3 linked regions of the Homo sapiens genome follow. The protein of the gene in region 2 purifies or fractionates together with the protein of the main gene of each other region. This does not show direct contact. Each region holds a gene or a part of one and is shown on either strand. Other genes may lie near its edges.

What was found.
Region 1: the proteins of TBR1 (region 2) and AP2A2 purify together in Homo sapiens (affinity purification with mass spectrometry, with the first as the bait; one large-scale study listed by BioGRID). This does not show direct contact.
Region 3: the proteins of TBR1 (region 2) and POLE purify together in Homo sapiens (affinity purification with mass spectrometry, with the first as the bait; one large-scale study listed by BioGRID). This does not show direct contact.

Annotation. Positions count from the first base shown.
Region 1 is NC_000011.10:984,780-988,426, reverse strand, and holds part of AP2A2 (AP-2 complex subunit alpha-2), read right to left. Parts: intron 2,996-3,647; coding exon of another isoform or gene 2,993-2,995; coding exon 2,845-2,992; intron 1,643-2,844; coding exon 1,474-1,642; intron 1-1,473. UniProt on the Homo sapiens protein: Component of the adaptor protein complex 2 (AP-2). Adaptor protein complexes function in protein transport via transport vesicles in different membrane traffic pathways.
Region 2 is NC_000002.12:161,414,762-161,418,508, forward strand, and holds the start of TBR1 (T-box brain protein 1), read left to right. Parts: upstream 1-1,535; 5' UTR 1,536-1,649; coding exon 1,650-2,341; intron 2,342-2,914; coding exon 2,915-3,069; intron 3,070-3,439; coding exon 3,440-3,561; intron 3,562-3,747. UniProt on the Homo sapiens protein: Transcriptional repressor involved in multiple aspects of cortical development, including neuronal migration, laminar and areal identity, and axonal projection.
Region 3 is NC_000012.12:132,677,343-132,680,989, forward strand, and holds part of POLE (DNA polymerase epsilon catalytic subunit A), read right to left. Parts: intron 3,346-3,647; coding exon 3,265-3,345; intron 2,881-3,264; coding exon 2,836-2,880; intron 2,705-2,835; coding exon 2,612-2,704; intron 2,310-2,611; coding exon 2,155-2,309; intron 378-2,154; coding exon 236-377; intron 102-235; coding exon 21-101; intron 1-20. UniProt on the Homo sapiens protein: Catalytic component of the DNA polymerase epsilon complex. Participates in chromosomal DNA replication.

The sequences.
Region 1 (3,647 bases), on a different chromosome or scaffold from region 2:
TCCAGGGAGCCGACCTGCACTCGGGCCACGTGTGTCTGGACAGCCCGGAATAGAGTTCCGCCTGCTGGCCCGGCCCTCCCGCACAGGCCAGCTTCGCTAGGACCCAGCGCACTGCCTGGATTCTGCCCGCTCGTCCATGCCTCCCTTGCCCTCCACAAGGGCCAGCTTCGCTAGGACTGAGCGCACTGCCTGGTGCAGGCCATCAAGGACTCCCTTCCATGCAGCCAAAGACCCCACTGCCTCGGACACGGAGCTGCCCCAAGGCAGGTCCTCACGCCCCACCCCAGAGCCCGTGCTGATGGGCCCCCAGGAGGCTCTGCAGCACGAGAAAGCCCGAGCTCTGCTCCCAACAAAGGCAGGAGAGTGGGCACCACCAGCGCTAGCACTGGCCGTGTGCAAATGAGTGTCCAGCCCTTCTGACAATAGGGATTGACTAAAACAAACACCAAAACCAGGACCAAGAAGAATCCAGAATACCAAATGCCCACCACGAGCCCCTTGCACACCACCCGGAATATCTGTGAGCTGCACGCAGACGTGCGGGGGACTGGGAGCAGCCCTGCCACAGCCTGAGGCTGAGCCAGATGGGGGACATGCAGCTCCCCGCCTCCCACTCCCTAACGCATGTGCACCGGTGACTAGGGACTTGGTGGACACACCGCAGGGTCCCCTATGTGGAACGAACCCTCGGGGTCGCTCTGGAGACTCGCAAAGGCTGGCAATGGCCAACCTCAACTGGGCTCTTCCAACTCTGAAATTTTTTTTTTTTTTTGAGACGGAGTCTCGCTCTGTCGCCCACGCTGGAGTGCAGTGGCGCGATCTCGGCTCACTGCAAGCTCCGCCTCTTGGGTTCAAGCCATTCTTCTGCCTGAGCCTCCTGAGTAGCTGGGACTACAGGCACCGGCCGCCACCACGCCCGGCTAATTTTTTTTTGCATTTTTAGTAAAGACGGGGTTTCACCGTGTTAGCCGGGATGGTCTCGATCTCCTGACCTTGTGATCCACCCGCCTCGGCCTCCCAAAGTGCTGGGATTACAGGCGTCAGCCACCGCGCCCGGCCCCAACTCTGAAATTTTAATCCCCGAACAAAGTGAGTTTCCTTTGTAAAAGGGGGATTTTCTTGGAGATAAGGGAAAAAAATTTCATCTTTCTACCAAGAAGAACCATTTCTACTTGTCAGCACTATGCACGCGCAGGATGGCACACGGGGGCTGCCCCCAGCAGGGAAAGGGCTGCCAGAGACTCCTCTGCTCAGCCTAACCAGGACAGCAGGGCCAACCCGGCCATCTCCAGGCAGCATGGCCCTCAACAGTGGTGTGACCTCCCAAGAGTAGGTGACAGGCGGAGGCCAGCAGCACCAGCACCACCTCCATCTCTGCGGGGAGTCAGGAGGCACTGCGTACCCCCAGCCTTCACAGGAAGACCCACGGCACCTGCTCAGGGAGTGAGCAGAACCCAAGGACAGGGCACTCGCCTTCAGGGCGTTGATGACCGTCTCGATGTGCGTCTTGACAGCCTCATGGGAGAACTCAGAGCTGGCCAGCGTGCACATGCTCTCCAGGGCCAGGTAGCGCAGGTTGGTCTCGCGGTGCTGCAGAAACTGGCCCAACTGGTTGCAGGCACGGACGAGCAGGTTCGGCTCACTGTGTGGAGGGAGGGGAAGTGGGTGGGGTTTCCTCAGCAAGTGCAACACAAACTGGACAGAGTCTGCGTTCCCCGACGGGTCCAGATGGCAGACAGCAAAGTCACACGGCACTCACCGCCACCACACTGCTCAAGTGGGAACTCGGGGGCCTCCCCAGATGCAGATGACGCCCGACCCCCACCCCTGACATCCATTTTGTGTCCATCCTGTGCATCCCCACAGTGAGTCAGCAGCCCGTGTGTCCACTGGAGCCTTCCCAGCACCTCCTGAGCCTCAATCTGCATCAGGCCCGCGGGAGGCCGGTCAAGCTGTGACCGGCAATGGGGTCTCAGCCAGAGGCACCAGCCCAGGGCAGGGAGAAGGCCGAGAAGGCCGGGAGCGCGGCTGCTGCCCCACTGACTCTACTGTCTCCTCAGGATGTGGCTTCTCCTCACATAACAACAGAGCTTTCTCCAAAATGGGAAATTTCAGTTTTAATAACTCTCAGTTCTGAAGTGTGACTCTCAGACTGAGTTTTCATCATTTGTAAAAATGCTGTAGTAGCAAATGGGTGGTGTTCACAAGCTGTAGAGAGCGTCTGCCCACAGCCTGGCACGTGCCCTCATTATTGGGAGCCTGGTGAGAACTGCGATCTCATTCTCACAGGACCCTAAAGCATGGCCCCACACGCAAGACCCACGCCAGACCACATGTGGTGCGCCGCAACTGCTGAGCAGAGAAGGCGTGGGAGCAGAGGAGGCAGACCCTCCAGGCTGTGTGGAGCGACCGCCACCCTGCGCCTCTGCGCTTCGTGGATGGGCACAGACGTTTCCAGCACTGCCCTGCGACCCTGGACCCACCAAGTGCGGCTCCACATCCAGCAAAGCCACGGGACATGCGCGCACACCCCCCACCCCACCCGTCTCCTCTCTGTTCCACTACATGAGAAGCCAGTCAGGAGTGGGGATGCTCAGGGGAAGGAGGAAAAGGCCCTCGTGTGGGATGAGACCACAGTCACCAAAGCAATCCACGGTGAGCTCAGAGCAGGAGGGGCCGGGCTGCACAGAAAGAAAAAAAGCATCCGGCAGGGAGCACAGAGGCAGGACGAAGGGGAGGCCCATGGAGTGGACAAACCAGACATGATCCGCCCAGTCTCGTGCCAACGAGAAGGAACGTGTGTGTGTGCGCGAGACGAAGCCTCTCCACAGGCAGCCGACACACCTGTCATGGTGAATGATTAAGCTGATGGCCTCGAAGAGCACGGCATTCTTCGCGTTGGAGTGCTGGACCTTCTTCGACTTGGGCGGTTCTTGGGCTTTGTTCAGGATGGTCTCCAGGCACTCAGTCAGGCGGCCTCGCACTGCAGGGTCTTCTGGGCAAGACAGAACGGTGCTCACCAGTCTCCAGTGGCCCGCAGCCCACCCTGCCCCTCCCGGCTGCACCCATACATCATGAGAGCATTTTTAATATAGTTCATTCACATTTGTGTACCCAGCTGGAAGCATTTACAAAACTGAGACAGGCCGGGCACGGTGGCTCACTTCTGTAATCCCAGCACTTTGGGAGGCCGAGGCAGGCCAGTCACCTGAGGTCAGGAGTTCAAGAACAGACTGGCCAACATGGTGAAACCCCGTCTCTACAAAAACGCAAAAGTTAGCCGGGTATGATGGCAGGTGCCTGTAATCCCAGCTACTCAGGAAGATGAGGTGGGAGAATCGCTTGAACCCGGGAGGCAGAGGTTGCAGTGAGCTGAGGTCGCGTCACTGCACTCCAGCCTGGGCAACAAAGGGAGACTCCATCTCAAAAAGAAAACCTGCACAAATCTGATACTATAAAAGCACAAATAGACCCAAACACTAACAAAACTGTAGGCTCTGCAATAACTGCTCCACGAAAGCCAGCGCATACAGCAGCACTGGCAGAAAGGTCCATGAATCAAGAGACAGGGCTAGTAACACACTTCTTAAAATAACAAACAAACCACTTAAATCTGAGACAGGGAATCAGACTGGCACTGGTGCAGC
Region 2 (3,747 bases):
CCCGGGCGGAGCCCGCCCTCGGGCCGGCCAGCTCTCGGGGCCGAGCGGAGCTCTGGGCGGCGCTCCTCCTGCTCATTCCCGCGCGGCTCGGCGTCCGGGAGGAAAGCCGCGGGAGGGCAGGTCAGCGAGCGCCGGGCCGCGGGAGGCAGCTTTGGGCAGATAAAAAGCCTCTGCCGCTCTTGGCCCTCTGGCTCAGGCCGAGGGCTGGGCTCCTCTGTAGAGCCGGTGCTGGGAGACTTCCTCCCTACACCTCGGGGTCTCTTCGGGCCTCGTGCTATTTATTTGTGCCAACATCTTTTTAAATTGGTTTTTTTCTATTCCTCTTTAGATTCTTTTTCCTTTTAAAAATTATTGGCATGGATGCTTTTTCTCCCCTCCAGATTATATAAACATTAAACACACACACGTACACACACACACACGTTTTCAGTAGCGATTACTGTGTTGACACCACTTCCACTCTGTCTCCCCAGATCAGCGCTTCTGACGAGCCCATTTGCACGGGGACTCGGCCCTCTCTTTTCCTGGCGAGGCTTTTGAACCTGTCGCCAAGCCAGTACCTCAGAGAGAAGGAAATGCAGAGGGACGAGAAGGATGCATGGCGCCTGCCCCCAGTTAGATGTTCTTCAGATAATCTGCAACCAAGTGCGCTGATAAAATATTTAATAAAGAGCCGGTAAACATCACTGCAAATACATTAAGGCATTTCAGCCCGACAGCTTATGATTATTTCAAAACTTAAAAAGGAGATCATAGATTGTCACTGTTTCTGTACTCAACCAAGAAACCGAACCTTCCTGAGGTGGGTGGATTGGTGGGTGAGTTGCTGCTTTTCGCCCCCTCTCCTCCCCCCTTCTGCTTGTCGCTGTGGCTCTCAGCAGCAGGGATTTATTTATTTATGTTTGCAGTTTAAAAGGTGGGGGTGGGGGCGCCGAGGACATGTAGGATCTGCTCACAAAGCACCAGCTCAGGTGTTGTGTGCTTTTGTATTAGCTGGAAAAGACAGACTCTGGAACTTTTACAGGGCGAGAAGAGGCCACCGGCTCGCGCTTTGTATACTTTGCACTTGAAATCGTTACATTCAACTGAATATTTGGCTCATTCAGATCCGAAAAGTCTCCTAGCATCGTCGAATTCCCTCCTCCGCCCCTCCGCTCTAAAGGGGGGAAGGGGGGGAAGGTAGGAAATGTTTAGTAAATTCCACATCTTTGAATCTTCCTAAAGCAGTGGTCACAGAGCTTAAAGGTGACACAACAGTGCTCACGTAAACCAACACACATTCCCCACCCCCCAAGCCAACAATAAAATCATCCCCTTCAATTTGCCATGATCGTCGCTACCAGGAGCCAGGTGATTATCCTAATTAATGTCTATCTAATTAAATTACTGTCAGCAGCTAACCAATGGCAGGAGCCGTTTCATCGGCTGCACAAGCAGCAAGATCAAAAGTGAGCCTTTTCTGATTGCTGCATAGTGTCAATTGGCCAATCTCTTCTCCCAGGGAAAAAAAAAAGTAAATCAAACCTTTGAGAAGCATTTGCTGGTTGAAGTGCTTTCTGTCTAGTGAGGGGGTCTGTGGATTTCTAGTTTATGATAAATAGGACTTTAAAAACCAGGGACGGGAGGGCGAGTGTTCAGGTTCTAGAGCTATGCAGCTGGAGCACTGCCTTTCTCCTTCTATCATGCTCTCCAAGAAATTTCTCAATGTGAGCAGCAGCTACCCACATTCAGGCGGATCCGAGCTTGTCTTGCACGATCATCCCATTATCTCGACCACTGACAACCTGGAGAGAAGTTCACCTTTGAAAAAAATTACCAGGGGGATGACGAATCAGTCAGATACAGACAATTTTCCTGACTCCAAGGACTCACCAGGGGACGTCCAGAGAAGTAAACTCTCTCCTGTCTTGGACGGGGTCTCTGAGCTTCGTCACAGTTTCGATGGCTCTGCTGCAGATCGCTACCTCCTCTCTCAGTCCAGCCAGCCACAGTCTGCGGCCACTGCTCCCAGTGCCATGTTCCCGTACCCCGGCCAGCACGGACCGGCGCACCCCGCCTTCTCCATCGGCAGCCCTAGCCGCTACATGGCCCACCACCCGGTCATCACCAACGGAGCCTACAACAGCCTCCTGTCCAACTCCTCGCCGCAGGGATACCCCACGGCCGGCTACCCCTACCCACAGCAGTACGGCCACTCCTACCAAGGAGCTCCGTTCTACCAGTTCTCCTCCACCCAGCCGGGGCTGGTGCCCGGCAAAGCACAGGTGTACCTGTGCAACAGGCCCCTTTGGCTGAAATTTCACCGGCACCAAACGGAGATGATCATCACCAAACAGGGAAGGTAATACTACATTTTTGGCTGCCGCTGCTCTAGGCGCAGCCGGGGACAAGTGCACCTAGGCTGTGACTGCCGCGGCAGCGACGATTTGGGGTCGGGAGCGGAGTGGAAGGCGCCCTAGAGTTGGCTAGTTTTGGAAAGGGGGAAAGTGGAAGGGATAACCGCCAGGGTGATGTTGGTGGGGGGGACCCCGTTCTAGGAACATAGTGGGAGAGCCAGTCAGTGGCCAGAGGAAGGCAAGAAAAAGGAAGAGCCCTGGCCAGCGGCTGGGCGATGGGAGGGACGCATCAACACTGGCATGCACGGACAGGTGGAGACGCAGGTCGCCAACCTCGCTCTCCACCTGGGCAGTGATAACTGCCACCTTCCCACTCCAGCTCACCCGCCGCTCTCCCTGATTTGGGTTGCACTTCTTTTCTTCTCCCACCACCCTTTTTCTAATCCAGCAAATATTCGCCTATTTGCTGCAAGTACAAGTTTTGCTTTGCTAACTGGCGCCCCGCTTCTTGCATTTAATCTTTAACATTTATGTTTCTTTTTTCCTTGTTTTCTCCCCCCACCCCTTAATTTAAATAGGCGCATGTTTCCTTTTTTAAGTTTTAACATTTCTGGTCTCGATCCCACGGCTCATTACAATATTTTTGTGGATGTGATTTTGGCGGATCCCAATCACTGGAGGTTTCAAGGAGGCAAATGGGTTCCTTGCGGCAAAGCGGACACCAATGTGCAAGGCAAGTCCTTCCAATTAACACATTTTCTTGACACTTATTTAGGTGAGAATGATTAATTAAAGCCTTTGTGGACTGGCTCGAGCGACTTTTAAAACGATCGGCCAATGACTTCTAAAAGGAAACGAGGGGGACAGGGGGACAGACTGAGCTGCGAGAAGGGGGAGGATTATGCAAAAGCTATTTTAATCACCCCCAGTTAATAGGAAGAAAGAATGGCCTAAAAAAGCCCCAGTTAATGGGCTTCATGGTGGAGTAAGGTGTGTGTATGTGTGTGTGTGTGTGTGTGTGTGTGTGTGTGTGTCCTACGTGGTGAGGAGCTGGGACTGGGCAGTGCCAGGGGCATATGTAAACAATGTATTTCTTTCTCTAGGAAATCGGGTCTATATGCATCCGGATTCCCCCAACACTGGGGCTCACTGGATGCGCCAAGAAATCTCTTTTGGAAAATTAAAACTTACGAACAACAAAGGAGCTTCAAATAACAATGGGCAGGTCAGTGGCTCAAGCGCTCGTGTTTTCTCTCTCTCTCACCCCTTCCTCCCTGACATCCAGTTCGTCAGTGTAAAGCAGCATATGGAACTGGATACACGTTTCTTTGCTTCATTAAAAAGACTTAAAAATTGTATTTCCACCCTCCAAATTTATATTAAATCTGTAAAGTTGTTCTCATTGGCAACA
Region 3 (3,647 bases), on a different chromosome or scaffold from region 2:
GTAACACAAGCAAAACTTACAGGTCGTTCAACAAGGTCATCTCGGCGGGTGATTTCTACCGGAAAAGCATTTCCTCGGTATCTGACATTGTACCAATGAGCCTGCAAAACACACAGTGTGCTAACTAGAGTTCTACATCCAGGAAAGTCTATTCTTCTGTGGATTCACCCATAATGATCATCTCCTGGCTGTTAGGAAATTCATGTGAGCAGCGACCCAACCCTGCCCCACTCACCACGTGGATCTTCAGGTCAATGGAGAGGCGGATGTGGTAGGGAACATCGTACTCGCGCATGTCCACAATGTTGTCCAACTGGTCAGCTATCTTCTTAGAGGTTTCCTCTTCATCAGTAATGACACCGCCCCTCTGCAGAACACTAGGAATTAACAAGAGAGCAACTAACTCAGCTGCCAGGGTCTGGAGGAGGTGAGACCAGAGTTCCAACTCAGTAGGAAGAGGTGAGACCAGAGTTCAAACCGAGGAAACACAAAAGGTAAATTGATGTGGTTTCAACGACCAAGGCAGTCCTTCCTTTAAGAATGGCTTGGACTGGGCCAGGCGTGGCAGCTCACGCCTGTAATCCCAGCACTTTGGGAGGCCAAGGAAGGCGGATCACCCGAGGTCAGGAGTTCGAGACGAGCCTGGCCAACACGACGAAACCTCATCTCTACTAAAAATACAAAAATTAGCCAGGCGTGGTGGCGCATGTCTGTAACCCCAGATACCTGGGAGGCTGAGGCAGGAGAATCACTTGAACCCAGGAGGCGGAGGTTGCAGTGAACCCAGATTGCGCCACTGCACTCCAGCCTGGGCAACAGAGCGAGACTCCATCTCAAAAAAATAAAGAATAGCTTGGATGATAACTCTACAGACAGGAGAAAATTCAGTGTAAGATGTATTCATTTTATATGATGTGAGTTACACCCCAACTAGAAAAAAAAAAAGAGGGCCAAGCATGGTGGCTTATGCCTCTAATCCCAGCACTCTGGGAGGCAGGAGGATCGCTTCGGCCCAGGAGTTCAAGACAGGCCTGGGCAACATAGGGAGACTCATCTCTACAAAAGTAATAATAATAATAATAATAATTAGCCAGGCATGGGGTACACACCTGTGATCCCAGTTACTCAGGAGGCTGAGGTGAAAGGATCGCTTGAGCCCAGGAGTTCGAGGCCACAGTGAGCTATGATTGCACCACTGCACTCCAGCCTGGGCAACAGAGCAAGACCCTGTCTCAAAACAAATAAGTAAATAGAAGAAAAAAGAAAGAAAACATTAAGTGCTGCCAGTCAGGAGAGCCAGGCATGACCATCCCACCATGGTCCTGATACTCAGGAGGCTGCCTCATGCAGGCTGAAGAGCAGGCCTGGGCTTCACACAGCCTGTGCATGGGTCTCTGCCATGTCTAAAGAAGTGGCCCACCATTGCGGCCACTATTGGCCTATAAGCTCAAATACTGAACGGGCTATTCAGGGGGAAAAAGACAGACGAGTCTCAGATATGGCTCAAGTCTCTGAGGACTCAGTCTCTGATCACACCTTCCAATATTTCAAAAAGCAACTTGTGGCATTGCCAGGGAAGGCGGACTCCGGGTAGGGACTGTAGAAATGTTCAGCATCCCAAACTGATCCTCTTTTGTCAGAGGGTAAGGTAGGTTCTTCCGAAGTCATCTAAACTTCATTACTCAAGATTTTCTCTTCCTAACTGGTTACTTTGCATCCTATTATTGTTGATGCTCAAATACTTGAAGAACAGTGTTTAGTGTTCTAGGCTTAAATTTCTGTGGACGATACCCAAGGTTCTCTGGAGATGTGCTGTGTAAATCTCAGCACTTAATGAAATTCATAGATGGATTGTGTTAGGGCAGTAGGATGAGGGATCTTTTCCCCTCTAAGGTGACTTTACTATTACAACCACTCAATTTTAGAGCCATAAACCCACCCCTCCATTGGAAAAGAGAGCTAACACATAAAATATAACCTGGGAAGCCACTGTTTATTTAACACAGAACATACAGAAATCTCTACCTAATTGCTCAAGTTTTCCGTATCAAACAGAGCCAGCCATTAAGGTAACTTTGTTGCTACGTGTTCCTGTCTCCTATCCATCTTGTCGTTCTGAACCGCTGATGCTTTGCTCACAAGACCAAAGTTTACCTGGAAAGCAGAGCTGTGTACGCGTCGCTGGCGTGATCCTGCTCCCTGTTCTTCTTCACGGCAGGGGAGATCTCCTTCCTCACTTTGACAAGATCCTCCACAGTGTGGAAGGACAGCCTGATGTAATTTCGCTTCAAACCCACCAAGTGATTTGGCTATAATGCGAAGAGATCACGCTCATTGGTTCAAGAGAAATAGGACTTTATGGGTGAGAGGGTAAACACTCAAAGGTAAACACACAAGTCAAAGAGTTGGCGACTTCAAGGCACCTTGTCCAACTCTGCACGTGGCACCAACTAACACCACTAGAGCTCTTTGGAAGGAATTTTATAGACGGTCACCACACCGCCCCATCACCCAACAGATGACCTGAATTTCTACCTCTTCCGATCCCACCTGCCAGGAACAATGTAGACTCTGGCCTCATTTACCCCTGGAAAGTCTGGGTGATACTCACCAAGTCCAGATCCTCTTTGGGGACAGTCTCCACTTTTGCAATTTTGCCCTGAAACTTCTTGGAGAGAAAAGATGAAACTTCTCGCTCACAACCCTAATCAGGATCAGAATGAAAAGGCTTTCCATTGGTAAAATACATTTCCTTCCTTGCCTATTTCCCAGTTGCAAAGCCCACCACAGAATGACACACAGGTCGTCTGACCTGAGTCTATGAAACACACTCACCTTTCTGGTCGCAATGTAGAAATACGGTTTATAGGGCAAAGCCACCTGTTAAGAGTCACCAACCCATCCAGGGGTGATGAGAAAGAAGAAAGCGAGAGAAAAGTGAAAACACATTGCTTGCTCCTATATCCCATGAACAGCCTAGGGCCAGGGTAGCCTTGACCTTGGTAGCATACAGGAAGTCAGAATGCGCACTTTTCACAGGGGCAAGAATCTGAAAGACACGCTACTTCTCACCATTCAGAGTCTTCCTGAACTGACCTCTCTCAGGACATCTTACGTGATGACTGATGGGGCCTCCAGGGGCCCGAGTTCTGCTGGGCTATGGGCTGCTGTGCACTGGAAGCCTCCCATGCCCTCCCTGACAGTCACAGAGCTACATGAACACCCATAAAAGTGGGTTTTAGCTTGTCGCAGTCAGGGGCTTACCTTAAATCTGCTTCCGTCATCTTGAATAAAGTAGTAATCCACTGCACTGCCTAAGCGCTTATCTTCATCTAAAATCTCGGTCTACAAGAGAATCAGTCAACACAGACACAAGACCATCCTCTACACAGTTAGAGAAACTTTCCTCCTACCTTTCGGGAAACTCAGCACTTTAGAAACAAACCCTCTCATCTAGGTCTTTACTCCACCCCTACATTAACACTACCAGCCTTATTCACAAGAACCACACTGTAACGGCCTCCAAATGGGGATCTCTCTCAATTTCTCCCTCATAATCCTTGAAAGCTTTATTCTGATGGCTAAAAGAGATGCCCATCACCTCCGGCTTCTCACAGTGGCCTCTCTGTGGCCCTCAATGACGTTAA